Regions from separate parts of the Homo sapiens genome. Here all the other regions are linked to region 1. Evidence: fine-mapped expression QTL. A gene starts in region 1. Each other region holds a variant in brackets. All regions are shown on one strand. Distances are between the middles of the regions. Region 1 holds the start of LINC01515 (long intergenic non-protein coding RNA 1515). Region 2 overlaps LINC01515 (long intergenic non-protein coding RNA 1515). Region 3 overlaps LOC105378339 (a long non-coding RNA gene).

Region 1 (10,404 bases):
CAAATGTTAACAAGCTTGCTCTCCTCTCCCTTTGTTGAAACTGGGTACTATAATTTTTTTCATTTTACGAAATTATACAATTTCATTACGTTAAGATAATACTGGTGTTGCTCTAATTGTTAATTTACAATGGTATTTTATTTCTGACATTATTTTTATTTTTCAACATCGTTTTTATTTTTTCTATCAACCATCTTCCTATTCATCAGCTTTTGTATTACATGTCTTTCTTTTTCTATACTGTAAAACTTTAATTCTTGATTTTTTAAATATAAAATGATATCCTCTGAAATTCGTTTAATTTCTTGCCATTATTATATTTTTAGATTTGTTATTCTTTTACCTGTTGTCATATATATACTTTCCTGTCTTTGTGCCACATAAATCACAAATAAATTTAATGATTATATGTATATATATAAAAAAGCTTTGAAAAATATTTAAACATTTTTTGAAGGCCATATAATTTTATTAACAATAACACATAAAAAGATAGTATACTGCTGTGTTAAAAATTAACACAATATAAATATATTACTAAGAACTATAGCTTAAACATAAAACAACTTAGAAAAAAATTTAGAGAATTGGAATTTTGTAGATTCAGATTCATACCATGGCTCTACAACTAACTAGCTGTGTGTGATAAAGTTAATCGCTCTGTGACTTCCTCACTTTCATTATCTTTAAAATAAATATAGTGAATTTATAAATAAATTATTTAAAATAAATATAGTAAAATAAACATAGTAATTTTTATATTATACTTATAAAGATTTATAATAATATAAACAAATTTAGAGAAATGCCTCGCTCCTAGTAAATTCTAAATCAATAGTAGATATAACAATTATTTTGTTAAAAAGTATTGAAAATGAATTAATTAATCCTGAAGTCTCAACTACCACATATTTATTTTTTTGTTGTCCTATAGTTTCACTTTTTATTATTTTCTCTTCTTAATTTAATTAGATTCTTTCCAAATTTTTTGTATTTCTTAATATTATGACTTCTGTTAAACTTTGCATGTAAAACAAACTCATTATATACATATTCTTATTTCCATGCAGTTAAAAATATGCCCCTATAAAACCATTGGTTTATAAGACAGATGAATACAAAATGGGGGGAAACCACTGGTTAAAAAAATCATCTAATTTTTCCAAGCTTAGTAACATATGAACCAAGAGCAGATGGGGAGAGAATTTTGTATCCCTCCCTTTACTGACTAAATTTGCATCTTCAGTAAAACCTAAGTTTTTTTTTTTTTAGCAAAGTCTTCAACAATACCCCCTACCCTCTACCTCCCAACCCATGCCAGATACTGTATTGTACCTGACAGCTGCTTGTGATAGTGCATGCAACCTTTCCTGGGTAATTAAAGAATACAAGCTTTAACCCTTACCCTATATAGACTCAATAGTATCAGAATAGCTCTGATGAATGGGACCAGATACTAACTTGTTCAAGAAAGGAAGGAGTTCCTTGGTAAAGAAAGGAAAACAGGGCTCTAGAAGGAAGAACTAATAATGCATCAGAGGATGAGTTTGGAGTGAAGGCTTGGATAAAACTTGACACTCACATCATGGGAAAAGTGGAGAATGGGACTGGTCTCAAGTGTAGCATATGGCACAGACAGAAACTTCAAACTAACTTCTCTAGGTCTGTGGGTGTGTATAAGAATAATGGCTGCTGGCCAGGCATGGTGACTCATGCCTGTAATCCCAGCACTTTGGGAGGCCAAGGCAGGTGGATCACTTGAGATCAGGAGTTCGAGACCAGCCTGGCCAACATGGTGAAACCCCATCTCTACTAAAAATACAAAAAATTAGCCAGGCGTGGTGGCAGCCACCTGTAATCCCAGGTAATCAGGAGGCTGAGGCAGGAGAATCACTTGAACCTGGGAGGTTGCGGTGAGCAGAGTTCACGCCATTGCACTCCAGCCTGGACAACAAGAGTGAAACTCCGTTTCAAAAAAAAACAAAAAAAAAGCAAGAAAGAATGGCTGTCTAGATGAAATAAAGAGCAGAAGCATTGGGAACTTGGGCCCTCAGTGATGTGGGATTACTATAGGAGGAGTATGTTACCCTGGCAGAAGAGAATGCCTCCCTTTCTCACATCCCTTTTGCTTCTCTCAGGGAAGGTGTGGAAAAGGTTTTCTCCCATCTCCCAGAGATGTATTTTTTGAAAAATTTCATCCCCTCAGCAGGCTTCAGAGAATAGCTTTTTGCTTTAGCTTTACTGCTGGTAATGATAAAGATGTTTCAGTTCTCTCTCTGAGAGGTGCTTGAAATGAGAGATACTGAGCAGATAATGGTACTGATCCTCCTTCTGGAAATGAATTGGCAATGATCTGGATGTGGCACAAGATACAAGCTGAGGGTATCTCATAAATCAACAGCTAATCTTCAGTTTGATGGTGTAAGCGGAGAGACTCATTAATTAAAAAACAGCCTCTAATGCTGCTTGTAGTTTCTCCATTTTTAAGTCAATGCATATAAATCCCAGTGTCAATAAAGAGGCGGAACTGATCAATCAGAAAAGAAATATAGAAGTAAGAATTGTAATGAGACTATCTACCCTTTGATGGGTGACACTGAGGGAAGAGGAGGGCAATTGCACAGTAGCAAGATGAGGAATCAAGAGTTACAGCAATTGAATTTATTGAGATAAAAAATACTAATATCTAACATATATTACCAGCATTTCATCATCATCCTAAGTCTTTTGTTTTTATGTAATAATTTTTAATCCTCTTTCACCTCTCATTTTAAAGATGAGAACAAGAAGACATAAAGAGTGTCACCAAGGTCTTGGCAAGTTTGCCAAAGTCTCATATCTCCTAATCTGCAAAACTGCAATTTGTGCAAAGAAAATTTGGTTTCTGAACTTGGGTTTTTAACCACTGTTACAGACTGAACTGTGCCCCTTCAAAATCCTATGTTGAAATCCTAACTCCCAGTGCTTCAGAATGTGACTGTATTTGGAGATAGGATATTTAAAATGGTAAAATAAGATCATTAGAGTTGGTCATAATCCAATACGTCTTGTGTTCTTATAAGAAAATGCAATAAGAACATAGACATGCAGAGAGTTAATGTAATAATTGGTATTTATTATTATTATTATTGCTATAATAATTATTAAACAACGAAAAGAGTGAGAAAAGAATTCCGCCATTGAAAATGGACTCTTACTGCACTGATGCAAACAACTATATTGTCATAAAAATACTCACTGATAGTTTCCAATTTCTAGAGGAACCAGGCAGAGAGAAACAAATATGCTCCAAGTCTTGATCACAGGAGTATACCTTACTTAATTATTAAAGGCCATAAATAGTTCAAAGTTTCTTTGACTCTGAAAAACAAAACACGGATCAGCAATATTCCAAGCAAAGGTTAAAAAGATTTGTTCAGTTTCTTTTCTTTTTTTTTTTTTTTTTTTTGAGATGGAGTTTCGCTCTTGTCACCCAGGCTGGAGTGCAATGGCTCAATCTTGCTCACTGTAACCTCTGCTTCCTGGGTACAAGTGATTCTCCTGCCTTAGCCTCCCAAGTAGCTTGGATTACAGGCATGTGCCACCATGCCCGGCTAATTTTTTTTTTTTTAATTTAGTAGAAACAAGGTTTTGCCATGTTGGTCAGGCTGGTCTTGATCTCCTGACCTCAGGTGATCCACCTGCCTTGGCCTCCCAAAGTGCTGGGATTTCAAGTGTGAGCCACCGCTCCCAGCCTGGTTTCAGTTTCCTGAGTTCAGTCCATTTAGTTAACTCTTGTTTTGTTTGATATTTGTGAGCATTTCAGCTCCTTATGAGTCCTGTATATTTTTCTTTATTTTAATGTTACAATTTCCAAAGTTACCAGAAGCCTGTGTTTGAGAGCACCTGTTAAAGTTCTATAGCTCATTATAAACCATCTTTGAGAAGGATTAAACAAGGCAACAACTGTCTGTGAATAGCAAAATGTCCAGGGTACTTACAGTTAGAAACACGATTGACAAAGAAGCTTGGTTATCTCCGTGGTTTACAATAACTTAACATAACGACCTTAATTATGACTGATAGCATATATTCAGCCATTAGAATTCTAGAAATCTCATACAATTTTGGAACATGTATTAGGATTATTCACCCAGATACAACCTAAAGAAGACTGAGCATAATTTTTGCAATCCCATGTACCTAAACATGTCAAATAATCCTGTTTACCTCTCTTCTCTGGACACTTCAGGGGCCCTCTGACATATTTGAAAAGCCAGGTGCCAGGGAAGACAATTTTGAAACTGAGGTTTGATTTTGGGAAGGCTGTTAAATGTTTGAGGTTTAAATAACTTGATATTATGAAATAGAATTCCAGGTTACCAAAAGTTATTTATTTTGCCAAAATCATGACTCAGAAATTTTAAAGAAGCAAAAACCTGTTATAACCCTTTACAAATGTGCCAAAGAGCAGATTAGCACCTTAGGAAAATCTTGTTATGCTTTTATTTCAATTTACAGAAAAACCAAACAATACCCTTTTCTGAATTTAGTCAATATGTTCACATAGAATCTCTTCTGCAAGATTAATTTCCACAGTTCTCCCACCACTTCTTTGAACCTTCAGCTTTTTCCTAATTTAACTCAAACAATCCTTTAACCCTAGGCAAAAGTTTACATTTCCATGCCTTCTTATAACCTTTTATTAAAAAACACATTTTACTGTTCTTACTCACCTTGCATGTAAATATATTTCTAGTAGTTTCAACTCCTAGCAATTTTGAACTTTAAGGTAAAACTTGGAGAGTTGCTTTAATTGTGTGCTAACTGCAACTAAGGTGTGCCTTCTTAGTTAGGGGCGTGGTTAGTTCCATATGCCGTGAGTGAGGCCCTTTAAGAGACAGGGGACATGCAGATATTGAATTAGAGAGGGCTCATCCCCTAAGGCAGGATTGCTAAACAAATCCTTGCCGCCAGAGTTATAAGCCATGGCCTCAGGATGTAAAACAAAATAGAGGATTTATTTCACAAGCAAAACTTTGCAGAGCATACAGTGATAGCTGGGGAGCAGAGGGAGTGGCCTAGTAAAGTGTCTTCTAAAAAAAAACAAACAAACAAACAAAAAAAAAACTTTAAGGGTTTACTTGTTGAGGAGGTGGAAAAGGGGAGTGAAAAAAGGTTTAAAAATGCCTGGGGAAGAACTTCTTATTCGTCTGCAAGTGATTTCAACAGCAGGGTTAAAGCTTAATTACTCTCTGATAAAGTTTAACCCCCTGGCAGGGGAAAAGGAAGGCTGCGGTGGCTTGTGTCTGAGAACCATCTAGCCAGCTGTGTGGGACCCTTGGGCCATGCATCCCGTCCCGGGCACAGAGGGGAGGGGGAGTGAGGAGCCCCGGCTTTCCTGTCTGTCCTGAAAAAGGAAGGAAAAGGCCTTTCCCCCGACGACCCCCAACGGAGCAACGGAGTTTGGGGTCGTGTTTCCCCCACCCTCAGTAGTCTGAGGATGAAAATGCTTAGGATCAACAGTGAGAGGTTTTGAGTCCCCATTTCACTCACTGTTTCTTGAGCTCCCCTGTTGCGCGCCAAAAAGCAGGACTTTCCCTTAGTTCAGCTAAAGACTGGGTCCTTGTCCATTCCACGACCACGACAATTTAGGCTCATAGATGGTTTGAAGGGTGAGTAAAGCAGGGTTTTGTTGGGTGAAAAGGAAGGAAAAGGGGAAACAGGGACCCTCAGCAAGGCCAGAGGCCCCTGCTAGCGTGCTTCCTACCCAGCCGTTTGAATTCCAGGTTCCACACAGGAAGAGGAGGAGTCGGACTCCTGGCTGCTGCAAAGGGCACCAACTTCTGTATTTTCACTCCAGTGCGCATTCCCAGTGCGCAGGCTGGTTGGAGATTCTCCAGGGACCCCCTCCCACCTGGCTGTCTCACTTTCCGTTCTTGACATCAGACATATTGAAATTCTCTGGGGACCTATGTGAAAAGTGAAGTTAATTGCAATGAGAGAACTGGAGTTTGGGAGCTAATCTGATTGGAGGCTGGCCACTGCAGGTGATCACATCCAGGCAATTGCTGTTTAATTAAGGCAATGCGATTAATCACAGATGTCACTCACTGGTAGCAACAGATGACACTGTACAACATTCCACCTATGAAATAAACATAAAGTAACGTTTGGAAAGACAGAAACTGAGTTAGGTCTGAGATTCTCCTTTAATGTTTTAATCTGTCGGGTTTTATTTGAATTCTAAGGATACGTGAAGCTTTATTCTTCTTACCTTCTTGAATATGCCCTCAAAACTATGTCATTAATTTTGAGTTCTTGTTTTAGTTTTTAAATGGAAACTTTCACAAATAAACATTGCAACTTTTTTGCCTTTTTTAGGTATAATATAAATTTAATAAACTACTCAGATTTAAGCTTGATGAATTTTGGCAATTGTACACACCCATTTAACTACCACTCTAAACGAGATATAGAATTGTGCTGTCCAGTATAGTTCCCACTAGTCACATGTGGCTATTTAATCTTAACATTTATTTAATTAAAGTTAAATACAATTTAAAATTTACTTTCTTAATCACACAAGCCATATTTCAAGTTCTTAACAGCTCCTTGTTGGTGGTAATAGCCGCTGACATATAGCTATTGGACATACTGGATAGCACATATTTAGAACTATGTAGAAAGTGATAGAAATGTCTTTGTAAAAATTAATAGCCAGCAACATTAGAAAGTGGCTTCTTTTACTCATAATAATTTTTAAATCTATCCATAATATTGCATGCATTCCTATTTTTTTTTCCTTTTTGCTACTGTGTAGCTTTCCATTTCATTGTTATGCCATAATTTGTTTAGCAGTTCTTGACTTGGGATAAAAAGCTGAGTTAAAAATAAAAAAATAAGAATAAAAGTAAATTTTTAAAAATTTTGCTGTTCATGGAAGTTTGGAGTACTCTACTTTTAGCTATTAGGAATTAGGCTATCATGATACTTTGTAAAATTCATTTTGTGAACATATGTTTGTTTTATTTCTCTTGAGAAAACACCTAGGGGTGGGATTGCTTAACCACGGAATAAGTGTAAATTTATATTTATAAGAAACTCTCACAGGAAAAGAAATGTGTAAGAATATTATTCAGCAGTAAAATACTATTTCACATCCAAAAGAATGTTGGGGGGTACTGACAATACAAAATGTTGGTGAAGATGTAAAACAGATATGAATCTCATACGTTGCTGGTGGGAGGGTAAAATGTTGTAGGTTCTTTGGACAACAATATCTTATTGTGGTTTTAATCTGCATTTTCCCATTGACTGAAGCTGTTAGACAGCTTTTCATGTGTTAATTGGGCATTCTTAGATCTTCTTTTGTGACATGTTCATTTATTTCTTTTGCACTTAAAACAATTAGTTATCTGACATTTAATAGACAATTTTTAGGAGTCCTTTTATGTATTTTAAGTATGCTTATTTTGTCTGATATGTTATTGCATATTCTTTTTCAAGATTTATATCTTAACCTATGTAAATTATAAGGCTAAATGTCTAGTTAGTTATAGGAAGGTGTGGAGCACCAGATTAGAATTTTTTTTAAGTAAACCGCAATGTATCAGAGAGTATGCTCTAAGTGCAATGAGTCCAAAAAATATCAAAGCCAAGAGAAGTAAATAGGGGGTCCTCTATCCAAGAAACTTTAAAAGCTATAGAAAAGAACACAAAGGAAAGAAAAAAACTCCAAAGCCTGTAATTATTTAAAGATTTAATTTCTTATAACTGTCTTTTTAACGTTTCTAAACTTGTATGGCAAACAATAGCATATATTTAGACAATGGAAAACATAAAATTCAATAATTGCTTTTTTTTATAAAATAAAATTGACCATTTACTATTTGGCATATTCAAATTATATAAATTATATAATAGATGCCATATTCAAGATGGCTGGCAATTTTAGCACAGAAAATAGAACAAAGACAACCAAATCTATGCTCTTATAATAATAATGATTTTTAAAAAGCCTCATATCTTTGGTTTCACTTATTTGTGTATAGAACTTCTAATTAGTAAAATTGCCAATATATTTTTATGAATCCTTTGGTTTTACCTTCTGGGTATCTAGAAAACATAGATTTCAAATGTATAAATGATATTTAAAATTCAATTCCAAATTTTTAAAATATTCAAAATATGATATTCAGAAGGTAATAGTATGTGCTTGCAAAATCTATTCATTTTCTCTTAACATTTTGGAGGCAAAATCTTTTACTTCTTCTATACAAAAAAACCCATAATTTTTAGTTTGGGCTGGGAGTCCCAATCTTTAACTTGGCTACATGTGGTCAAATTGCATGGCTCCCCAAACAGAAATGATTGTTATCCACCCCCACACAAAAACCCCACACATCCCAACAAACACACAACATGACATCAGAAAAATCTTTGGATTTTATCTAATATACATATTCAACATAATATACAATTCACCTGAAGCTGTTTATAAATATCTATTTGTCCCATATTCAAGTAAGAACACAGATGATTCAAGTATGCAGGTATAACAGTCAAATGTGTTCTCTCCAGTGTTATTTGCTGTTAAGTTTAAATGATATGCAAGGAAGAAGTCAGAGCTAACAATAAATCTTTACTTTCTACTCCTTTCTTATTCATCATGCACACAGACACATCTATAGACAACATAAAATCTGCACAGACACATCCACACAGTTACAAGCATTTATATAGACACACACACACATGCAAACACACACACTAATATAGCCATATATTCCTCAAGTAATATGATTTTTCTTAACTTTCCACATGCCCCCTAGTTGTTCTAGTCTACTAGGCAGTCATTATAAGAAATAATTATTCTATAGTTTGAACATGTAAGTATAGATATTCTTAGGCTAACAGATTACCATATTGCCTGATTTAAAAAAACAAAAACAAAACTCAGTCTCAAAAGTGAACAATGTCAGATGCCACTCTTGGTTTTGAATATTACTTTATCCTAGTTAGGGCCACGGATGCACATTTTTATTTCAACTTTAAGCTATGAAATGTAAAGTTGTTTACAAAAATATATGGGAGTTCTACTGTTTGAGTTATAAAGTAGACCTTGATCTGAAGAATAGAAAGAGATTTCTAACTGTGCTCTCCAGAAACTGAAAAGCCTGGTTGTATTAAGAGTGAGTGTTCTTTCTCTGGAAGTACTGAAGCAGAAACTGCACAGTCACTACTCCTAAACCTTTCTGAAGGCATCAATCCATGAGGCAGCCAGTTAAATGAGATGCCCTCTGAGGTTACTTCCAAACTGTAGTTTCTGTAATTCTACCAATTTCTCCTGATTTTAACATCTCAACAGTTTATCAGAGCGAAGTGTCTTCTAACATGATTGCTTTGCCTAATTATTTTTAGAACAGATGAAATTATATATACATAAACATTTTTTAAAAAGACATTAATAATTAGTTACTGTCTCTAATTATTTACATATGACTTTTCTAACTGAGACTAAAACTTTTTTTAGAATTGTGTACGTACGTTAAGAATATAGTTTTCAAGTTAAAGTAAGACAACTGACCAAATTATTTGAGAGCAAGTAGATATTCAAAGAAAGTTTAGATCTTTACAATTTCTTTTCAGATGGAAGAAATGTATTAACTCCTCCATTCTGTTCAGAGTAAGCAAAAGTTGTTATACCTTCAACATGTTCTGTTAATGAATTAATTGGGAAATACCTTTTAGTTTTTGAAATTCCAGGATTTGTGAGGTTCAAGTATAGAAGTTTTTGAGGAAGGCGAAATGAAAAGGAGCCCTGACTGCCTGAGGTGGAGATGAAAAAGTACGTTAAAAACATTCGAAAGAAACATAAAGGCAGAGACAAGCATAATTGGATTTTGTAATAGGATTGCTGAGATAGGTTCACGTTCAAAATCATATGAAGCATTCTGTTTTCTTGGTTACTGGTTAGCAAGAGATATTTTATAGGGAACTCATCTGCAACCATGGACACCTTTTTAATTAATAAAGAATATTCATGTTTTAGAATATCAAAGCAAGAAAAATTGCACAGACAAGTCATTGTTTTCTATGTAAAGATAAAAAACTGTTTCATGCATAAATTCAAGAAAATTGAGAGTATCCTATTCTATCTGCATAATGTGGCATTGAGCAAGGCTTGGAGTTTTTAATTGTTTTTCCATTGTTATTTTGAAAAGCATTTAGAAAAAAATACCAGTCTGATTTTCTTTCCACAGGACTCAAATGACAATCTTGCTCAACCTGTCTTAATGCTTTACAGATTATTTTTGTACATTCTCATTGTATTCTTGGAGTACATTACTTATCAATTGTGTTCATGACACTTCCTACAGATATTTTATCTCTTCATGAAGATAGTAAACTAGAAAAATTATG
Region 2 (10,404 bases), 180 kb before region 1:
AAAAGAAAATATGTACGCAAATATGAGGACAACTTATCAAAAAATTAGGAATTAATGTAAAACCTTTAAATCTGTCATTCATTGCTAGTAGTATTTTTAATGAGCTTAATCAGCTCACTTAGGTTATTCCCTAATACATTAGGGACTCTGGAAAAGAAATTACATAAAATACTTTCATTTTTGAAGATGTTTCTATATCTTATTCCTCCCCCTCTCCCAATTCTTACTTGCCCTAGCTATGCATCATCCTGAAATATGTTAAAAATCTGATAGTGTTAGTAAGAAATACTCTGGAAAGCTGCATCACTTCATATTCTTACTAATGACTTTCAGGTCAATTTGACTTATTGGACCATTCTAATTAGCATAGCTGTACAATCATGCATTGCTTAATGATGGGGATACTTTCTGAGAAATGCATCCTTAGGCGATTTCATCACTGTGCAAATATCACAGAGTATACTTATGCAAACCTAGATGGCATAACCTACTACACATCTAGGCTATATAATAGAGCCTATCGCTCCTAGGCTTCAAACCTGTAGAACATGTTACTGTACTAAATATGGCAGGCAATCATAACATAATTGTAAGTATGTATGTAAACATATCTAAACACAGAAAAGGGACATAGAAATATGGTATTTGAATCTGATGGGACCACTGTCATACATGCTGTCCATTTTCAATTGAAATGTCAACATGGGACATATGACTGTATTCTCTGGCCATTTGAGTTTTCCAGAACAAAAACTTGCTTGAAGTTCTCCTAGTCACCTGAAATAGTTACTGCACTGTACCTAAGCAAGTAGGTAATTTTGTATGAACCATTTGTTCTAGTTCTACTGTAACAGCAAGTTTCCTTCAAATGAATTAAAATGTGTCTAGGTATCTTCTGGAGATAACAATTTTGTTTTCTACTCATATTATGAGTCTGTCCTTTATATGCATAATGAAATTCAGAAAATGTTTACTTGACAGATCAGTTCCTGGCAGGTTTTATGAATTATAAATATGTGTGAGTTATGATTCATAGAAATGCAAGCCCAGAAACATTCTAGGTAGATCTGAAGCTCTGAGAAATCCTGATGATAAATAATCTAAAGCAGTAAAACCGTAGAAGAGTGTTCTTTAACTGGATTGAAGTGATCCACTTAATAAAATAACTGAGCCATCTCAATAACACAGTGAAACATGGGTAGCATTTGTAAATACCAAATTTTCTGTTATTTGGTTTCAAATTGGAAATACTAAAACTTGGGCAAAACCACAGCTTCTTGTACTGTAAACTCAGCACACAGCTTCTCCTTTCCTCAATTCCCAGCTTTTGGTTTCGTTAAATTCTTGGTGACCTACTTATCACCAGCAAACTGAATCTTTATTTCCTTGCCTATGAAAGAATTCCAGGAGAGAAAGGTAAATAATCTTGCAAAACATTGACAAGGGTTATCATCATGCTTACTGCAACCTTAGACTTTATCGGTTTAACTCCAACAGCTCTTATTTACACCAGGTCTTTTTCTACCTTTAGGTCTGTGTGCAGACATTTTAAGAAAATAAGTCCTTTAGAGGTGTCTAGACTTGAGGCTGATGATCCTTCATAAGACATTTTTAAAACCCGGAGAAAGTCACAAAAGATCCCTGGCTTATTGATTTTAGCCCAAGAAGCTGCTGAGGTTTGGCTTCATCATATAACTTGCCAGTGGCATGATGAAAATTGCGAAAAACATATAAAATAGTTTTAAAATTAGTTAAAAATAAGTTACTGTTGGTTATCTAAAGTAGTTGCACTGTACTTAAGCAGATTCTGATGTATTTTATTTTAATCAGTGTTCTTTCAGGAAAATGCCAAGACTTTAAAATTATATTCTTATTAGAAGCTCTTAAATGTAGGTTTGTTTTTAAATCTGAAAATATTTTGTAGTTGTTAGTATTCTTGAGTGTCTGAACTGTTGTTCTCAACATTTACAGTTATTCTGATCTCCTTGTTCTAAATCCCTTATTAGCAATGTTTGTAGAATAGAAATGAACTAGAATTCATATCACATGCAAGGATCCTCACAAAATAAAGCATGCTGTATTAATGAGTTTATATAAGATTGTCCTTGAAAAGTAGCTTATACAATAGTTTTTATATTTTTCTTGTAGCAAAATAAAGTTTGCTACAAATAAATATTTTGGAAATTACTAGCCAGAGGCAATGCCTGCCATCAAATAGCCCAAATAAGAAGAGTTTCATGCTTGTACATAGGTGTGGGTTTGTATTGTGTATGTGACATGTTGCATTATTGTACAGATGGTATGTCATTATGTATTATTGACTAAAGGAGTCTACATATAGTTTTAAAAGAACTATCTCCTGATAATTCTAGCTGCAATAAAAGAAAGAAAAAAATTGATTTTCAGAAACATATAGTTGAGATATGACTAGCATTTTCTGAGGATGTCATCATATTTTTATTTAAAATGTTGTCAAATAAAGGATTTAAATATTCAATAGACAAAAGTCTACCATTCCACTAAAATTACAATTCTTCTTTTAAATTGTGGTAACAGAATGTTGCCAGATATCTGTGTGGCCAATTCAGTGATTCCTACCAGTGGTTCTCAAACTTTTGCATGTGTCAAAATAACCTGGAGTTTTGTTAAAACATGTATTGCTTGGCCCCACACCCAGAAATTCTGAATTACTAAGTCTGGGGTGAGGCTTGAGAATGTTCTGACAACTTTCTAGATGATCCTGATGCCTGGTTCAGGGAACATACTTTGAAAACCACAGATCAATTCTGAAACAGAAATCATCAATAATCTTGTGCTAAAACAGAAATTCGAGAACAAAGAAAAATTACAATTTTTTTGTAAGGAAAACAGTCAAAAACATATCCAAACACATTCATATGATTGCATAACATACACAATCACAAACACATTTTTTTAATCAGGTAAACTGTTGAGTGTTAGTCAATATATTACAGCTCCTTGTAGAAAGTTAAAAGATATAAAAATAATAAAACACCTGTATCTTCACTATTTTATGTATGAACATATATGTATCTAGCTACCAATCTAGCTAGCTAGCTACCAGTCACCTACAGTCATGCAACACATGAAGGTGTTTCAGTTAACAATGGACAGCGTATATGACAGTGGTTCCATAGGATTATAATATTTTATTTCTACTGTGTGTTTTCCATGTTTAGATATGTTTGGATACTACAAATACTATTTTGTTACAATTGCCTACAGTGTGAAGTAGAGTAACATGCTGTACAGGTTTGCAGCCTAGAAGTAATAGGTTATACCACATAGCCTAGGTGTGTAGGAGGCCATACCATCTAGGCTTGTGTAAGTGCACTCTGTGATGTTTACCCAGTGATGAAATCACCTAAGGACATATTTCTCAGAAAGTAACCTCATTGTTAAGTGACACATGATTCTATTTAGAGTCATTTTTTATTATTCATGGTAGTTAGGAAATATAAAGTTGCTGCAAACACTGAATTTGCAAATACTAAACCATTGTTCCTAAGGGAAACACAGGGTTAGGGCCCTGAGAGCTCTGGTTATATTTTCATATAACCAGATTTTATATTTATTTTCAACTGATTCATAAATGGCCTTATTTTATGTGTGTTTCTATTTGAAGACATCTTTTAAAATACATAATGTTGGCCAGTCACGGTGGCCCACACCTGTAATCCCAGCACTTTGGGAGGCCAAGATGGGTGGATCACAAGGTCAAGAGTTCAAGACCAGCCTGGCCAATAAGGCAAAACCCCAGGTCTACTAAAAATACAAAAATTAGCCAGGTGTGGTGGCAGGTGCCTGTAGTTCCGGGTACTCAGGAGGCTGAGGCATGAGAATCACTTGAACCCGGGAAGCAGAGGTTGCAATGAGCCGAGATCGTGCCACTGCATTCCAGCCTGGATGACAGAGCGAGACTCTGTCTCAAAAAAAAAAAAAAATTATATATATATATATGTATATATATATATATATGTATATATGTATATATATATATATGTATATATATATATATATGTATATATGTATATATATATATATGTATATATATATATGTAGAGAGAGAGAGAGTTCATTAATATTGAACTGATGGCCAACGGCACTATGTGTCACACCTGAATGAATCTTATCTATCTAACAAACATATACTCTCTACTAGGCACATCTCAGCCTTCCACTTCAACACTATGTTTGTGGGTCATTCTAAACAACCAAATCACCAAAGTATAAAAATGTAATAGGTATGGCACTAAGTAGAATTCCAAAAGGACACTTGTTTATAGTGTAAGAACTAAAACAAGAAGGCAGAGCATCTCCTGGTTTGACCTCAGTAGGCAACCTGTACTTTGGGTAATACATTTTTGCCAATCTGCACATGTCCATCAATGACTGTGAAAGTGCAGCAAGTATTAATTTTGTTTTCACAAAAAAATTTTAGTGAGTAGGAAAATCTTCAAAAATGGGCTTGGCAAATAATGAGGATATAGATATTTGGATAGACAGTGAGAGAGATAGAAATATATATATTATATACATTCAGGTATATATATATGAGACATATATGTGTGTGTGTGTGTGTGTGTGTGTG[A/TGTGTGTGTGTGA]ACTAGGAAATGTATGAACTTGGAAATTTGCGAACAACATACCTGGTTTTATTGTGACCTCATCACTGATGAGTTTTAAAAAATGTCTATTTTGGTAGATTATCCATTTTTTTTCTCATTAAGTCTAAACATCTTTCTCTTATTGCTTTCTACATTCTAGGCATTCATTTTCTTCCCACGAACCTTGTTTTTTCATTTGTTTCTGGTTTTATCATCACATGTGGCCCTTATTTACAAGATACATTCTAATATCTACTCTGATATTATATTAGTAGCATTCATATACCTAGCATTTTTTTCTCATTTTACTACTTATTTTGAATTATGTTTATGGCATTTGTGACATATTATAGATTATAGTTTATACAGTCAAATCTATTGATTCTTTTAAAAACCATTACATCAAGTTTTTTCATTAAAAATCATTTAAATATTTATCAATATTTTCTTTTGGTATGTAAATATATTTTCTATTTACATTTAATTTTTTTATCTGGAATAATTTCATATATGTTATGAGATAAGTCACTGATTTGCATTTTGTTCCTAAATAAAGACCCTCCCCCAGCTGTCTTCTCAATACCAGGTCTTCCTATGCTCTGGAATGTTTCCCTAATTTCAGTTTTCTCTTTCTTCTATCCCCCCCATCTTTTTCCCTCTACATATTAATTTATGCAGCATTTATGCAGACTCAAGTAAAATCCATGTTTTGAAAAAACTTCTGTCTCACATATTTTTAATACATCTTTTACTGCCTTATCTGTTTCTTCTTCTTTAGAAACTCTTTGACATATTTAATGGTTCATTTGTTCATTGTCTTCAGTTTCTCATCTCCACCGTATTCTCAAGACACCTCTTTGGCTTCAAATCTAGTTATTCTACTAAAAGCTTCTATTGAAAAGTAATTGTAAGACAACTTTTACTAGATTTCAGCACCATTTGATTAAAAAAAAATCTTGAGCCATCTTTCTCTGGCTTCTACAATGGCATAATCTCAATGTCTTCCTTCACCTCTCTGACAACTCCTTATCAGTCTGATTTGCTTGTTCTTTCTTTGAGTAATCATCAGATGTTTGAGATTCTATATACTCTAAGTAATTATCTTTTCTCAGTCTTTATATCCCCCAGTGAACCAACTGACTCCAGCAATTTCCACCATCAACCGTATTCTGACAACTTTGAATTTTTAACACCAACTGTAAACAATTTTTGAGTTTCAGATTCACTATTAAATTGCATACTACACACTTCAAACTTAATATATTTGAAATAAATGACACGTTATATTACTCAAATGTTTTTCTATTCCAATATTATCTATCTCATGAGAGCTGCCATCATTTACATAGTTGCTCCATCCAGAAATATGTAAGTCCTTTTCTTTCACCAACTACTTATAGTAGGTCACTGAGTTGTGTCAATTAAAATTCTCAGATATACAATTATTGTCAACTAAAAATACAAATTTTAGGCCAGGTGCAGTGGCTCACGCCTGTAATCCCCGCACTTTGGGAAGCCAAGGCAGGTGAATCACTTGAGGTCAAGAGTTCAAGGCCAGCCTGGCCAATATGGTGAAACCCCGTATCTACTAAAAATACAAAAATTAGCTGGGCATGGTGGAGTGTGCCTGTAATACCAGCTACTCGGGAGGCTGAGGAAGGAGAATCACTTGAACCCGGGAGGCAGAGGTTGCAGTGAGCTGAGATAGTGCCACTGCATTCCAGCCTGGGTCACAGAGCGAGTCACTGCCTCAAAAAAAATTAATTTTTAAAAATTTTAATAATTCTCAAATCAACTTCTTCAATCATCAATGATCTCACACTAGTTTCATTCAGTATAATTACTCATGCAAATCATTATCTTCTTTAATTATGTCCCCTCATTCCAGAAAGAATCATTATTGAACAATGCAATTTAATTATTCTACAGTTTTCTCACTTGAAACATTTTGGTCAGTTCACATTGCTCTTAGGACAAACTTAGTATTTATAGTATGATATAGAGAATTCTGTAATATCTGATATTCTACCAGACTTGTTTCTGTTTTAAATGTCTTGGCTATTTTCAAATGAAATATTCATTCAATAATAATCATAATCGATATTGAACTCAATCTAAATATTGTGCCCTACTGAAACTTGAAAGAAATTTTCCATTAGCAAAGTTTAAACAATTGCAATATAATTGGATAATGTAGTCCAAAAAAATTACTTCCTTCAAAACAGAGTAATAATTTGGCTATAAAAATACTTCTATATTTGTTAAAGTTATGTATAAAAATATACACACTCACACAAATGTGTTCTTAGTATATAGCTGATTTGATAGGCTCAGAATATATGTGTATTAAACACTCTGTAGTGGATTAAAATTTCTGTAATCCTATTAGTTTCCAATTTTTTAGAAATGATCACATTTGTTTTGGAGTAATTAATAACTGCAGTGATTTTTTTAAGTTGAATATCTTATAAAATGTTTCTCTATGGCTATTTCTGAATCTCTCTACTCAACCCTACCAGGCATAAGTTGATATTTTTGGTAATCAGTTGATGATTTTGTATATTTGATATACAATATTCATACATGAAACATTTATACTTTCCTCTTTCCAAAAACGTAGTATTAAATTAAATTGATTTGAATCTGACAGTGGTTTAGGTTTCATGCATGAGCTTGTCAGAGGTCACACATGGAAAAAGATCAGATGTCTTTGAGAGAGCACTCAGGCAAGTATTCTGGACCCATAAATGAGATACTTTTTGAAAATATTTTAGAGATGGATTATCAAAGAATCAAATCCATGAAAGTTTTGAGTTAGTACACTCTAATTTTTGCTGTGCGCTGTCTTATATGTGTTTTTGGTTTCATGCAAGTCAAAAAAATATTGTCTATGGGCCAGGTGCGGTGGCTCATGTCTGTAATCCCAGAATTTTGGGAGGCTGAGGCAGGCAAATCATCTGAGGTTAGGTATTGGAGACTACCCCAGCCAACATGGTGAAACTGTGTCTCCATTAAAAATACAAAAATTAGCCAGGCGTGTCTCCAAAAAAATACAATACTGGCATGCACCTGTAGTTCCAGCTACTTGGGAGGCTGAGGTGGGAGAATCACTTGAGCCCAGGAGGCAGAGGTTGCAATGAGCCAAAATTACTTCACTGTACTCCAGCCTGGGCAACAGAGAGAGATTCTGTCTTAAAATATATATATATGTAGCCCTATGAAGAGTATCGTTTCTCTGTCTTGCTGTTTCAAGAATAACAGAAACAAACTACATCCTCATTTGTTTTTACTTTTTGTATCAGACTTTATGAAAATGTTCATCAACGTATAATTATCTAAATCCTCACCAGTTTTACTTTAAAATTACCTTGCAGGTGATATGAGTCTGACATATGCACTGAAACATCAACAGTAAGTCTGACAATATTGGTAGCTGAGAATGATTACTGGTTTAAATACTTGAGTTTCTAATCATTATGCTTACTTTATCTCAATTAACAACATTGTTGACTATATGCTTAGATGTCATGAAAGTAAAATCAATCTTCCAAACTTAATTATCACCTCCATAATACCTGTGTTAGGTGAATTTGCAATAATGAATACAAGAAAATATTAAAAAGAATAACTAGTCACTGTTAACAATTAAACGATATTGGATTTTTTAAATCTGCAAGATCATGTAACTAGTATTTGATGAATATGGAGTGGTTGTAGATGATCATTAAAAGTTTTACCTGAACATTCTAAATAATAATAATCATATGTCATATGTTATTTGTAATACTTCACAAAAGACAAATATGCAAGTATGGAGAGTAGAAAAAGAACAATTAGTGAATATGAATTTTGGTAACATGTGATTTCAGGATATTTGGGAAAATCATTGCCTGAGTAGAGAAATCACCTTCAAAGCTACATTTTTATATTTGTATACAAATGGAGAATGAGACAGACACAGGAAAATATTAATGTGGTCTGAAAAATGCTCCTTCGAGATTTCTTTTTCTCACACAATTTTGCCAATAGCAATGACACAGTTTATTTCATTCATAGCATTAATATGTATGAAAAATATATTGTGTGTATAAATACAAGAATAAGCAAGATTACTGTGATGGCATTCAAACATAATCCTTAGGCAAACATAAGCCAATTAGTGTAAAGCAAAGCATCTGAAAAGTGGATTCATCAGAACTAGCATGATATTTATGTAATAATTTTCCTTAAGTCTACAATGAAATTTAATTGTTGTTTCACTCAACAATAATACATTCTGACAGAGTTTAGCCTTTTAAAGTCAAAATATGCTTCCTTTGAATAAAATCTTATTTCTAAATTTATTTTTTTACTGTATCTGCTTCTATTAAAATGTCAATTATTAATTAGAAATTATCTTGACTCTCACCAATTATCTTTGAATGACATTAATTATTTCTTAGGTTTCAACTGATTTCTTCCATTCTTTATCTGGTGAGTTAGCTTAATACATTTTATATTTTTTAATAGCATGACTTACTTTATTTTCTTTTTTGAGACAGGGTCTTGCTATGTCAACTATGCAGGAGTGCAGTGGCATGATCCCAGCTCACTGCATCCTTGAACTCCTGGGCTCCTCTGATCCTCCCACCTCATCTTCCCAAGTAAGTTGGACTACAGGTGTGGTGTGCATCACCACACTTGGTTATTTTTTTCATATTTTTTTGTAGAGAGTGTCTCCCTATGTTGCCTAGGCTGTTCTGAAACTCCTGGGCCAAAGTGATCCTCCTGCCTTCGTCTCCCAAAGTTCTGGGATTACAGAAATGAGCCTCTGCACCTGGCCGCATATGATTCTTTTCTATAGCTTTTCCTTAGTAACCCAAGATTTAACCTTATACACTTTTCCCAGTTATCAACATAGAAAGACAATGAAAGCAGTAATAAATGAATGAAAAAAACAAAAAAGAAGAAAAGTAAAAAAAAAAAAAAGTTTCAAAAAGTGGAAACAACACAAGTGAAAATAGGAGAAAAATTTTTAAAAATAATTTTTTCACTATATGTTAATTCCCTATTGCAGCTAATGTCTTATGAGAATAAAGACTGTGTGATGTTTTTATTTGTTTGGGTCATGTATATCATATTGTTGATTTTTACATTTTTCCTGAAAACATGCAATTGAGTTTCTGTGTGTAGAGTTAGCATTACTGTTATTGAAGTTTTCAGAGGGCTTCTCTGACCAATTGTGTGCTGCAGTAACAAGACAGATGAAAGGACTTCTAAGGAAACAAAATTGCTTATGTCCCAGGATTTTATCTTTGGGTTTGCCTTTCCAGGAAATGGATCTGATCTCTCTGGAGTAAGTTTATGCCTGCCATAATTTAAAAGATTCCCAAGAGACCAGCATATAAACTACAGTTTCAATTTGTTGGTTAAAATGAGAAAAACAATACTGCCAAACAGTGTGGAATGTTCATGACAGCAATGTGCTGTCATGCATCCACCGAGGAAACATCCTTTGAGGAAAAAGCATAGGGGGGCTTTCAGACCATGAAATCAGAGACACGAGAGATGAGTAGATTGTATTTCATATTAGAATCATTGATCTGTGTTAGTCAAATGCAATCATCTTTGCCCGGATATATCCTTGCCCATGGAATTGTGATGGTCCTAACACTGTTGATAATATTTTATATGTCTGTGATTAGGAAATAAAAAATGGAACTAAAATGCTCAAAAATGATAACATTCAAGATAGATTTAATCAGAGATAGAGTTCCAAATTCTTTCTCTTTTGAGGGAGGGTAGTTAAGATA
Region 3 (10,404 bases), 210 kb before region 1:
CAATCAGTGGTACTTTGTTATGGCAGCCCAAGCACACTAAAGCATCCCCAGTACCTGATATGCATCATTTTAATTGCTTGGGTTATTATTAACTCTTCTTGTATTTTCCTGGTTCTTGGAATAGTTTCTTTGCACATTCACTCATTCTGTCACTTTATGGACTCTTACAGACATTTTTGTTTAAACAACATATTATCTCAGTGAGAAATTTGGAGTTCAAGATGAATAAGTAAATTTTCCAGGGTTTAAAAATACATTATTGCTGGTCTAGTTTTGAATTGTTAGGCTATTTTACTTAATTTTATTCTCATTTAAAACAAGTAGCCAGAGGAAAAAATTGTGAAGTACATATATTAGGAGGATTCTCTCCTGGCTCCATTATACTAAGAGCTGGTTACATATGTAAGATAATTGTTTACCCATAAGGCCCATGGAATAATATCCTGTCCCCATTGAAAGGAATGTGAGAAAGTAATTTATTACTAACTGAGCACTGAGGTATTTGATGTCTTTCACTTATCATAACTAAGTAAACAGTCTTTAGTTTACAAATGAGGAAACTTGATTCAGAGGTGTTTAATTTTCCAAGCTTATATTGATAATGGACACAGTATATAAGATTTGAACTTAGATATTGCTCCAAAGATTCTGATTTTCCAGGAAAATTTCCTTATAGTAAGCAGAGTAAAATTAGCTGTCAAAATAGGATGCTTTCTAACCCTCCTGTAAGTGAATTTGTCATTTGGAGCATATTTTATTTGTAAACATTTCAAATTTCTCATTTGTGAAAATGCCAAACATCCATACCTGAAAACTTTACATTTCATGAAGCAGGCTGTAACGTACCCTTCAGTGAGTTGGGGGTTAAAGTGGGCTTTTCAACAAGCAAGGCAACACTGACCTGCAGGCAGAATGCTTCAACAAATCAGTCAGATTTGCTTACTGGACTCATGTCTCCTGCTAAAGTCGCTGTCACAGAATTACTTTTATTTTGTGCTCACTGTACTAAATTTTATTAATTTTTAAAAAAATTTTTAGATGTTTCTGATTCCATAGTGTTTATTATCCAGTTCTCTTAGCAAAAAAATTCTGGTATTTATAGAAAATGCAGAAGACAAATGATAAGCAAATATATATCCCTCAGAGAAAAAGATGCTACATCCAGATATTATTATGCAAATTTGCCAAGCAAGGTCAAAGTGTACTAGTGGGGAAGATAGAAAAGGAACAGTTAAGGATATTAATTCAAATCCTGAGAAACTGTTTACTGATAGGAAAGGTTTAGATACTAAAATGAGATAAAATCGATACAAAATTGTACCATTTATCTATTAATTGCCTGACTTTGGGTGGGTTATTAAACTTGGTTTTTATGTTTATAAAATTTGTATAACAATATCTCTCCCTAGGGTTGTTGCAGGTTTATTTAAATTACGTACCTCTGTGTTTTGCTCTATCTTGTGTAAAAACTGAAAAATGATTCAGAGAACAGAGAGCAAAGCAAATAACATTGGTTTAAAAAGTGTAAAATATACCAGGAATGAGAGAGACTTATCTCCACTAACCAGGTGGGAATTGGAACCAATGTCAAATTAGCTAAATATCTCAAAGGAAAATACTTAAAACATAGGTGAAAAAAGATAAGAGAATTCTGAAGAAATAAGGGATCCTTTTCTTAAAGGATAAAAAAATTCATGATATTCCTGCCAGTTACCTGATGGTAATAAAATACAATGAAATGATACCCTAACTCAGGTGGGGTATCTGATGATTGGCAAATAGGGAATATGGAAGTAAAGAGGGAAAACATCAGATGAGGAGATGGAAGCAGAAAAGTGGGAGAAGACTGAATATGTCTATGGGATGTACAACAGATTTCCTCAGAGAAATGGAATTACCCCTGCCTGAAGTTGGTCACTGGCTCTCTTAAGGGCAAAGAGTCATAAATGAAGTTAAACTGAGAGTGGTTGATGTTCAGAAATTATAATGTGAATAGGTCTCCATAATATTGGATATTAAAAGACCCCTGGAAATTTATGCAGGAGCCCCAACCTTTCCTGAGGAATGACTAGGAGATGGTCCTTATTCTCAATCTTGATTTGCTGCTAATGATTTGGGATCTTGAGGTTTGTAGTACTGCTTGGCTAAGTATTGATGCCTAGTTGAGTTATTAGTGGGTGCCCAAATTATATTTTTTAATCTTTTCTGATTACTGATAACATAAATTCTGTGACTTACAAGTTAATCTGATGGAAGTGATTAAGATAAGATGTAAGAAAATTTTTAGGTATTTGGCCAAATATCTTAAAGGGTAAGTCATCTTTAAATAGCACTAATAATGACTCCAAAATTGTATGAAAATATTAAAACAAATTTCATACATGCATATGGGAATACTTGGCTTAATATTTTAACCACCTCTGTATTCATATATATATATATATATATATATATATATATATATATATATATATATGAATATGCTTACACAAACACATAGCACCACTAGCACCTCACATTATTCATTAGAGAAGAATATAAAAAGCCACCAACATCGATCAGTATCATTGAACTGCTCATCTTCTGTTAAAAATACAAGGAAATGACTTACATAATGGCATATCCACAGCACAAGTTGAGATATATATAAGGCATTATGAAGAGCTCATCTTCATAAATGGCCATCAAAACTGTCATTAATAGAACTCAACTTATAAAGAAAGTGATGTATGGTGAAACTGACATATTGAAGGGACTTGCTTAAGTATTGAGTGTGGAATGTTGACTTTCAACAAAAGTATAGAAGTTCTGTCTTGCCACACTTATTGGACCAAGCTCAGCAGTTCTTAAATTCTAAATTAAACAAATACTTTCTGCATATTCACTGCAGCAGCCAATTACATAATGCATTGTAAATTATGGTTAAAAAGACTGTTTTCTTTTGAAAGTGTGATACAAGGCAGGCACAGAAGAGAAGCAATCACCATTGTATTGCTTCCTCTTCACAGAAGAAATGTGTTTAGAACAGTTAGCAAAATACCTGGATCTCATTGGCATCTAACATTCCAATCACCTGCTATTCAACAATTTTTCATTTTCTTGATGTGCTGGATTTTGCAATGTTTGTTAGCGTGCAATATGTCATCTCAGCGTAGACACACCAGTATTATATGATCCCTTTCAGTTTTGTGCATGGGAGTGTTAATGTTGTACTATAGTATTGCAGCTACATTTTCTGTATCTCACTAGTTTGAAGGAGTTAGTTGCATCCTTAGAAGTCCAAGTGAGACTGAAGGTTAGAAACCGTGAGTCCAAGTAATAGCCAGTTCATTTAATAATTTGTAAAAAATTTCTGATGAGACGATCCAGGCTTTATCTGTGACATTCCGTGTTAAAAAATCCCATTGTAAAGAATTTACTCAGATAAATTATTGAAGAACAGGATGAATTCATTGTTGTATAATTTTAATAAAATATATATTGCCTAGGGTCACAGGACAAATCAATGTGTTATAAAATACATACTATGCTCTCACTCATATATTCTTATTGATATTTTTATTCATGAGGAATAAACAAAGGTGCACGCTGCTATTCTTCACAGAGAATAAAGCATGAGAAAGATATCAAGGGGGTATTATGGTCAACATTTCAATTGTGTGCTAGGCAAAGACTGGGCCTTAAAACTATATTTGAGTAAAGAATGAATAACTAGAATAGAGATTGGATTCTGGAAGCCAACTTTAGAATAATAGGCCAAAGTTAAAACCAAGTTAAGAAACAAATGAAAAATAGGTCAGTGAATTGTACAAGAAGGTAACACAGATTCAGGAGTCAGCCCATTACAAGGGTGAGAACATCTTTTCAACTTGTCATCTTTCTAGCTTTTTCTAAATCTTACACTGAGGCACTGTATTGTAAGGCATTTTTTTTTTTTTTTTTTTTTTTTTTTGCCATTGACTTATGGCTGTAAACCTCTGGAGGGAAGTAAGAGGTGGCAAGGGAACAAAGCAGGGTAGTATGAAAATGTAAGCATGAAAAATGAATGAAAGATGAGAGAAGGGGTCACTTGGGCATCAGCTGAGTATGACAGGCTCAAGCTCAAATGGAGCTCTGGCAGAAAGTTGACTGTATCCCACAGGTTATCATTCCAGATAGCGGCAGAGTTCTGGTGGTTTGCTAGTAGCCAGCTGATCAATGTATTTATGCCCTAATTTATGGCTTATCATTAGTCTGCCCCTCAGAGACATTTAATGGTTATTTTTTGGTGCTATTTATTTATCTACTTATTTATTTTCCTGCAGAATCATAACACAAAGCTTATATTATCTCAAACAGCTGAAAATGCAATGTTTGAACCCCTAGTTTCCCTAGCCTTTCCATCTCATGCCAGAGTAGGGGCTGGTACACTACAAAATCAGAACGGCCAGGGTTGAAAAATGAAAATTACTGTAAAAATATGCTACTGGTACCAAAAGATTTGGAATTCAGGCTTTGATTCTGACGGAAAAATGGTTAATGTTTCTGAAATGATGTAACTTAAAAAGTCTCAACAGATATAGGTTAGAAAACTTGATGTTAAAGACAGTGGATCCTTAAGCTCTCCCAGAATGCAGTGGGCAACCAGGGAGCCCAGGCTGTCATGGGATTCCTAGGGTGTCAATTTGCCAGCCAGAAACCTCTGTGGCTGGTGGTGCCTCTGCTTAGGTTTTGCTTGTGCTCGCTGGGCTCATTCCACCCACTCAGCCCAGCAGCCCCTGCTCGGCTTGTGCTACCAGCCGCATCCCCTAACTGCCATGGGCAAGCCAGGCATGGAGCAGTGAGGGATGTGTGAGCAAGTGAGTGCAGGGTCCAGCCACTGCACACAGCCAGGTGCTCCAGCTGTGGCAGAGGGGTGGGCGGTTCCAGGCACTGGCACAGGCACCAGCTCCATGGAAGACTGAAGCTAGACCAGGCATATTAAAAGCAGCTTTGGCTGTGGGCACCAGCATCTAGACAAGGGGAATGCGATGGTGCCCAAAAGCAGAGCCCCAAAGAGAGTGCCACAGCCCTAGTTCAGGGAGACCTGATGTCTGCATTCCCAGAAGGGCTGCAGCTCTTTTCTCCTCATCACTCACAATGTGGTGAGCAGGGGGCATATTTCAGCCCTGTTTGTGTTACAGCTCTTTCATTCTCACCATTCAGCAGGTCCCAGTTCTTTTCCTGCATCTAGGAAGAAC[G/A]AGATACATGGACAATTTGAGGGTGAGGAAGGCAGAGGAGCTTCACTGAGTGACAAAACAGCTTTCAGGAGACCCAAAGTGGGTAGCTCCTTTCCATAGGCAAGTTGTCCTGATGGGGTTCCAGCTCACAGAGGAGAGGAGAAACATGGCAAGTAGCTCCTTTCTGCAGGGATGTTGTCCTGACGAGTGTGCAAGTCTGGCTGAGTCCAGGGTTTTCATGAGCTCAGAAGAGAGGAAGCGCATGCTGATTGGTCCATGGGCAGCCACGGATGGGCCTGGAAAAAGCACCATAAGTTCTCACTCTCCATGACGGACTCTACCTAGAACTGGCAGCCCGGCTCCCAGGCTTCAGGCCACCCCTGGCTTGAAGCTGGGGCTTCACCAGGGACCCACCCCTTTCCACTTAGGAACCTGTCTGCCTCCTGCTGCCATCAACATGCTGTTACTGGAGCCCAGGCTCTTCACCCCAAAGGGCACCTATAAGGCCTGTGCTGAGCGTCCCTCAGCCCCTCCATCCCACCTCCAGCCTCCCTCCCTGAGCTCTTCATTGTCCAAAGCTTCAGAGGAGGCTGAGGCAGCAGGAGACCTGGAGTGTCAGCGCCTCCCCGAGGGCACGCACACCTGCCAGGTCATGATAGTGCATGGGCTCAGCTTCAACTTTGCTTCAAAATTGAAGTGGGCACCAAGAGTGGGGAGAGGCCAGGGAGCAGGAAAAGGCACTTCTGAGCCTGTGGGGGCAGGGAGCTTCCCGGACCCCCAAGAGTGCAAGAATGCCCTGGTCCAGAGCTGCAGCTGGGCGGCTGCAGCTGTGTCCAGGAGTGTGGGGCTCTCGCCTCACCAACTCAGTAGGGGGTGGAGCTCCCGCCTGTTCCCAGACCCCATTGGCTCCACAAAGCACGCAGCCTCAGCAGTGCCTCCTGCACAGCAGCTGGCATCCCCACAATGGCTGTTCTAGACAGGCTGGTGCCACCATCAACATCTATCGCAATGAGCTTTCTCAAATAGAAAGCTGTAACATTCACTCATATTTGTTTACTGTTTTCCAACATTTATAACCACCACCCCATCTCAATTGAAAGGAACCACTTTCTAGTGTAGCATCTGAAAACTCAGATATTTACATTTTCATTCTCCTTTATGGCTGGACATGATTAGCATGTGACCTGATCTTAGTCAAGAAACCCAACAGCAAACCAGTTGTGATACTCTAGAAAAGGGTACCATCCGTAATTAAAAGTGACTGCTAGGAGAAAAGGCCCTCCTTATCAACCAGATGTTGACATACCTGGCTATAATATCTGGAATTCTAGAAGTCTTGATATCCTAAGGGAAGGCTAATTATTTCTCAGGGTGGTAGAACAGAGAAATGGAATAAAATTTCAGTGAATTGCTAAAAATGTAATTATAGAAAAGTCACTGTTTGTAATAATAATAATAACTAAAGGTACCTGAGAATGGTTCTAATAAAACATATGCAAAAATTGGGTATAGGCAGATGCAGTGGCTCACACTTGTGATTACAGCTACTTGGGAGACTGAGGTGGGAGGGCCAATTGAGGCCACAAGACCAAGGCCAGCCTAGGCAATATAGTAAGACCCTGTCTCTATTAAAAATAAAAAAAGGAAAAAAAACCTCTTGATATAGAAAAATCATTGAGAACCATAAAATAAGACCTAAATAATTGGTGGTGTATACAATGTTTATGAATGGATTATTTCTATTTTGCGAAGTGAACATTTCATCCAGATTATTATGCATCTTTATTATAAAAGCTATCAGAAACTTTGTGACTGTGTGCTTGTGTTGTGTGTGTGTGTGTGTGTGTGTGTGTGTGTGTGTTTGAGAGAAAGAGAGAGGAAGATGGTGTGGGGGAAGAGGGAGAGAAAAGAGAGAGAGAAAATGAGACTTCAAAAGTTAAAGGTGAGTATAAGAATTAATAAGAAATAGAAAAGGCAAAAATGTCTAAGGCAATAAGACAATATTGTCAAGGTAGGGAACTCATCCTACCAAATATTTACTTATTTTAAGCTGCTATCACTAAGACAGTAAACTTTAGGGCATAAACAGAAAAGAAGAAAAGTAGAAGAGAAAAGTAGATCTCATGTTAAGTTTTCTTACCACACACAGAGGTAGAAGAAAAGTTAGAAAGAAGATGGACATGTTCATGGTCGTAATGGTGATGGTTTTGTAGTGTATACTTATCCCCAAACTCAACAAGTTGTATACATTAAATAATGTATAGTTTTTACAAGCCAATTATTCGATTTTTAACAAGAATGTCAAGACCATCCAATGGTAGAAAAATAATCTTTTCAACAAATAATACTTGTGCAATGGGATGTCCAAATGCAAAAGAATAAATATGAATGTCTCTCTCTCATCATAAACAAAAGTCAATTTAAAATTGGTCAAATACATAAAATAAGTTGTAAAACTATAAAATTATTAAAGGAACATATGGGATTACACCTTCATGACCATGGGTAAGGAAATGAATTCTTAGATATGACATAAAAGCACATGGAACAAACAAAAGACAAAAACAAATTGAACTTCATCAAAACTAAAAACATTTGCTTTGAAGAACATTAATTTAAAAAACAATTTATAAAATAAAGAAAACATCTGCAAATTATATACCTGATAAAGAACTCGTAAGTAGAAGCCATAAAGAAATCTTAAAACTCAATAATTAAGACAAGAACTCAATCAGAAAATTGGCAAAGTAAATGAATAGACTTTTTCTCAAAGAAAATTTACAAATGGTGAACAGCACATTCAAAGATGCTTGATATCCTTAGTCATTAGGGAAATGTAAATCAAAGTCACAATGCAATACCACTTCACACCTACTAAGATGGTTATAACCAAAAAGACAGGAACTAACAAGTGGTGAAGAGAATGTGGAGAAATTTGAAATCTCATACACTGTTGGTGGGAATGCAAGATTGTTCAGCCACTTTGGGAAACAGTTTGGCAATTTTCCAAAATGTTCAGCATGAAGTTACCATGTGACTCAGCCAGTATCCGTTCCTAAACATTTACCTAATAGGAATAAAAATGTATGTCCACACATTAATTTGTACAAAAATACTCATTGCAGCATTGTTCAAAATAATCAAAGTGGAAATAACCAAATGCCTATTAACTGATGAATAAATTTTTTTAAATTATATATGCATATATAATTTTGTACTGTAAAATAGAATATTATACAACCATAAAATGGAATGAAGTATTGCTATAGGCAAAAACATCAAAGAACCTTTTAAACATTGTAAGTGAAAAGACTCAGTCACAGAAGACTGCCTATTTTGATTTCATTTATACTAAATTTTCAGAGTAGGCAAATCTGTAAAGACAGGAAGTAGATTAATGTGTGTTTAGGGCTGGGGAGACAGGGTTGGGTGAAATTTTTTTTTCCCTGGGGAGTAATAAGAACATTCTAAAATTGATCATGGTAATTATTGCACAAATCTATGAATATAATGAAAACCATTGGCTTACAAATTTTGAATAAGTGAATGGTATGGGATATGAATTATATCTCAATAAAGCTGCTAAAAATAAAAGAAAATTGACTGAGCATGGTGGCTCACGCCTTGAATCCCAGGAGTTTAGGAGGCCGAGGTGGGAGCATCGCTAGAAGCCAGGAGTTCGAGACCATCCTAGGCAACATAGACATAGAGACCTTATCTCTATAAAAAATTTAAAAAATTAGCCCCACACAGTGGTGCATGCCTGTAGTGCCAGCTACTCGAGAGGCAGAGGTGGGAGGATAGCTTGGGCCCAGGAGATGGAGGCTGCAGTGAGCCATGATCACACCACTGAACTCCAGCCAAGATGACAGAATAAGACCCTATCTCAAATAAATAAATAAAAAGTAAATAAAGTGAAATACATTTGTAAAACAAAAATCTCTTCTTATTTTCCTTTCTTTATTTTATTATTCTGATATTAATAAGCATACATTATTAATGGGTATGGATTTAATGAAAAATAATTAGATGATCTAACTTTTATCATGCTATTAAAAATATCATGAAATGAACATAGCTTTAAGTTGTAATTTAGACTGTCTTTTACCTCCAGATCTAGTTGTATGTAATATATTTTAAATTCAATAAGGTGTATTTTGGAATTTAAAGGCAGTATAATTTTATCGTTTCTTTGGAGGCACTTATTTTTATGTTTTGAAGTCTAAATAAGTAAATAAGGGCATTTCAGACCTAGAAAATTAGTACAGCTTAGCTTTTTCAGTGTTTACAAAACAAATCTATACTTAAAATGACTTGTAAGCTATAAATTTTGTTTTCTCTTAGTTAATAACATTATTCCTTATGTTTTAAGCACATGACATGCACCATTTCTGTTTCTATAATCCGCTGACAGTGATGTGAATTTACATTAATTTTAATTGTGTATCATTTTGAACATTTATTTTGTGTCACATTTAAAAATCAACATTTGAAATAATACTATGGTCTACATAGTTGGAACTTAAGAATCAGTGTGAAGGATAAGGGGGAAAATGTAAATGATGAGAGCAGAAAGGTCTTACTTGAGTTGATAGAAATGTATCTGTCTTTAATCTTTCTTTGGGAAGAAAGTTAAATTACTGAAAATCTATATTTAAGAAGTAATTCTCATAATAGGCCACTGCAAAATACTGATATGGGTGATTTTTAGAAAAAAAATATCATGTAGTCTATCTAAACATGAATCTGCTCATAGGGATAGAAATAAAACCAAATATTAAAATATAACTGCAGAAAGGGGGTGGAAGTTTTAAACATAAATTATTGTGGTCATATTTTTATTTCACTTTTTAGATGTCAGCCTGTGTAATGTTAGCTTTCTTCACCAGTGATCTCCAAATTATTCTGATCATATTACATCTGTTGATAAAGCAATTTAGAGTTCTCACTACTCCACCGAACTTTTTACTGTACTGAAATTCCTTTCAAAGAAGAGGCTTAAGTTATGGAACTTTTAAGAGTCTATTTAAAATTGAGTTAATGTCTTGCACAACACTTTGGCAAAAGCACCTTAAGAATTAAGAGAAAAAAGTGATTTTCAATTAGCAGCTTTTTTTATACAATGAGATATCACCTCACACCTATTAGAATAGCTATTATCAAAGAGACAAGCAATAACAAGTGTTAGTGAAGGTGTGGAGAAAGG

What was found.
Region 2: its variant is fine-mapped to the expression of LINC01515 in prefrontal cortex (ROSMAP, PIP 0.95).
Region 3: its variant is fine-mapped to the expression of LINC01515 in caudate (GTEx, PIP 0.98).

Annotation. Positions count from the first base shown.
Region 1 is chr10:65,565,891-65,576,294 of GRCh38, reverse strand. It overlaps LINC01515 (long intergenic non-protein coding RNA 1515), which reads right to left and starts at 4,870. Exons shown (of 6, transcript NR_120647.1): 1 at 4,716-4,870; 2 at 3,239-3,360. RefSeq lists a silencer at 9,157-9,357.
Region 2 is chr10:65,744,367-65,754,770 of GRCh38, reverse strand. The region is part of intron 5 of LINC01515 (long intergenic non-protein coding RNA 1515); the gene reads right to left. LOC105378339 (a long non-coding RNA gene) reads left to right here. Exons shown (of 7, transcript XR_001747476.2): 6 at 7,987-8,023; 7 at 9,154-9,190. Among named protein-coding and RNA genes, the nearest start is that of LINC01515, 180 kb to the right of the region's middle. The variant A/TGTGTGTGTGTGA (reference allele first, on the strand shown) is at 4,613.
Region 3 is chr10:65,774,632-65,785,035 of GRCh38, reverse strand. All of the region lies in intron 5 of LOC105378339 (a long non-coding RNA gene), which reads left to right. Among named protein-coding and RNA genes, the nearest start is that of LINC01515, 210 kb to the right of the region's middle. The variant G/A (reference allele first, on the strand shown) is at 5,220.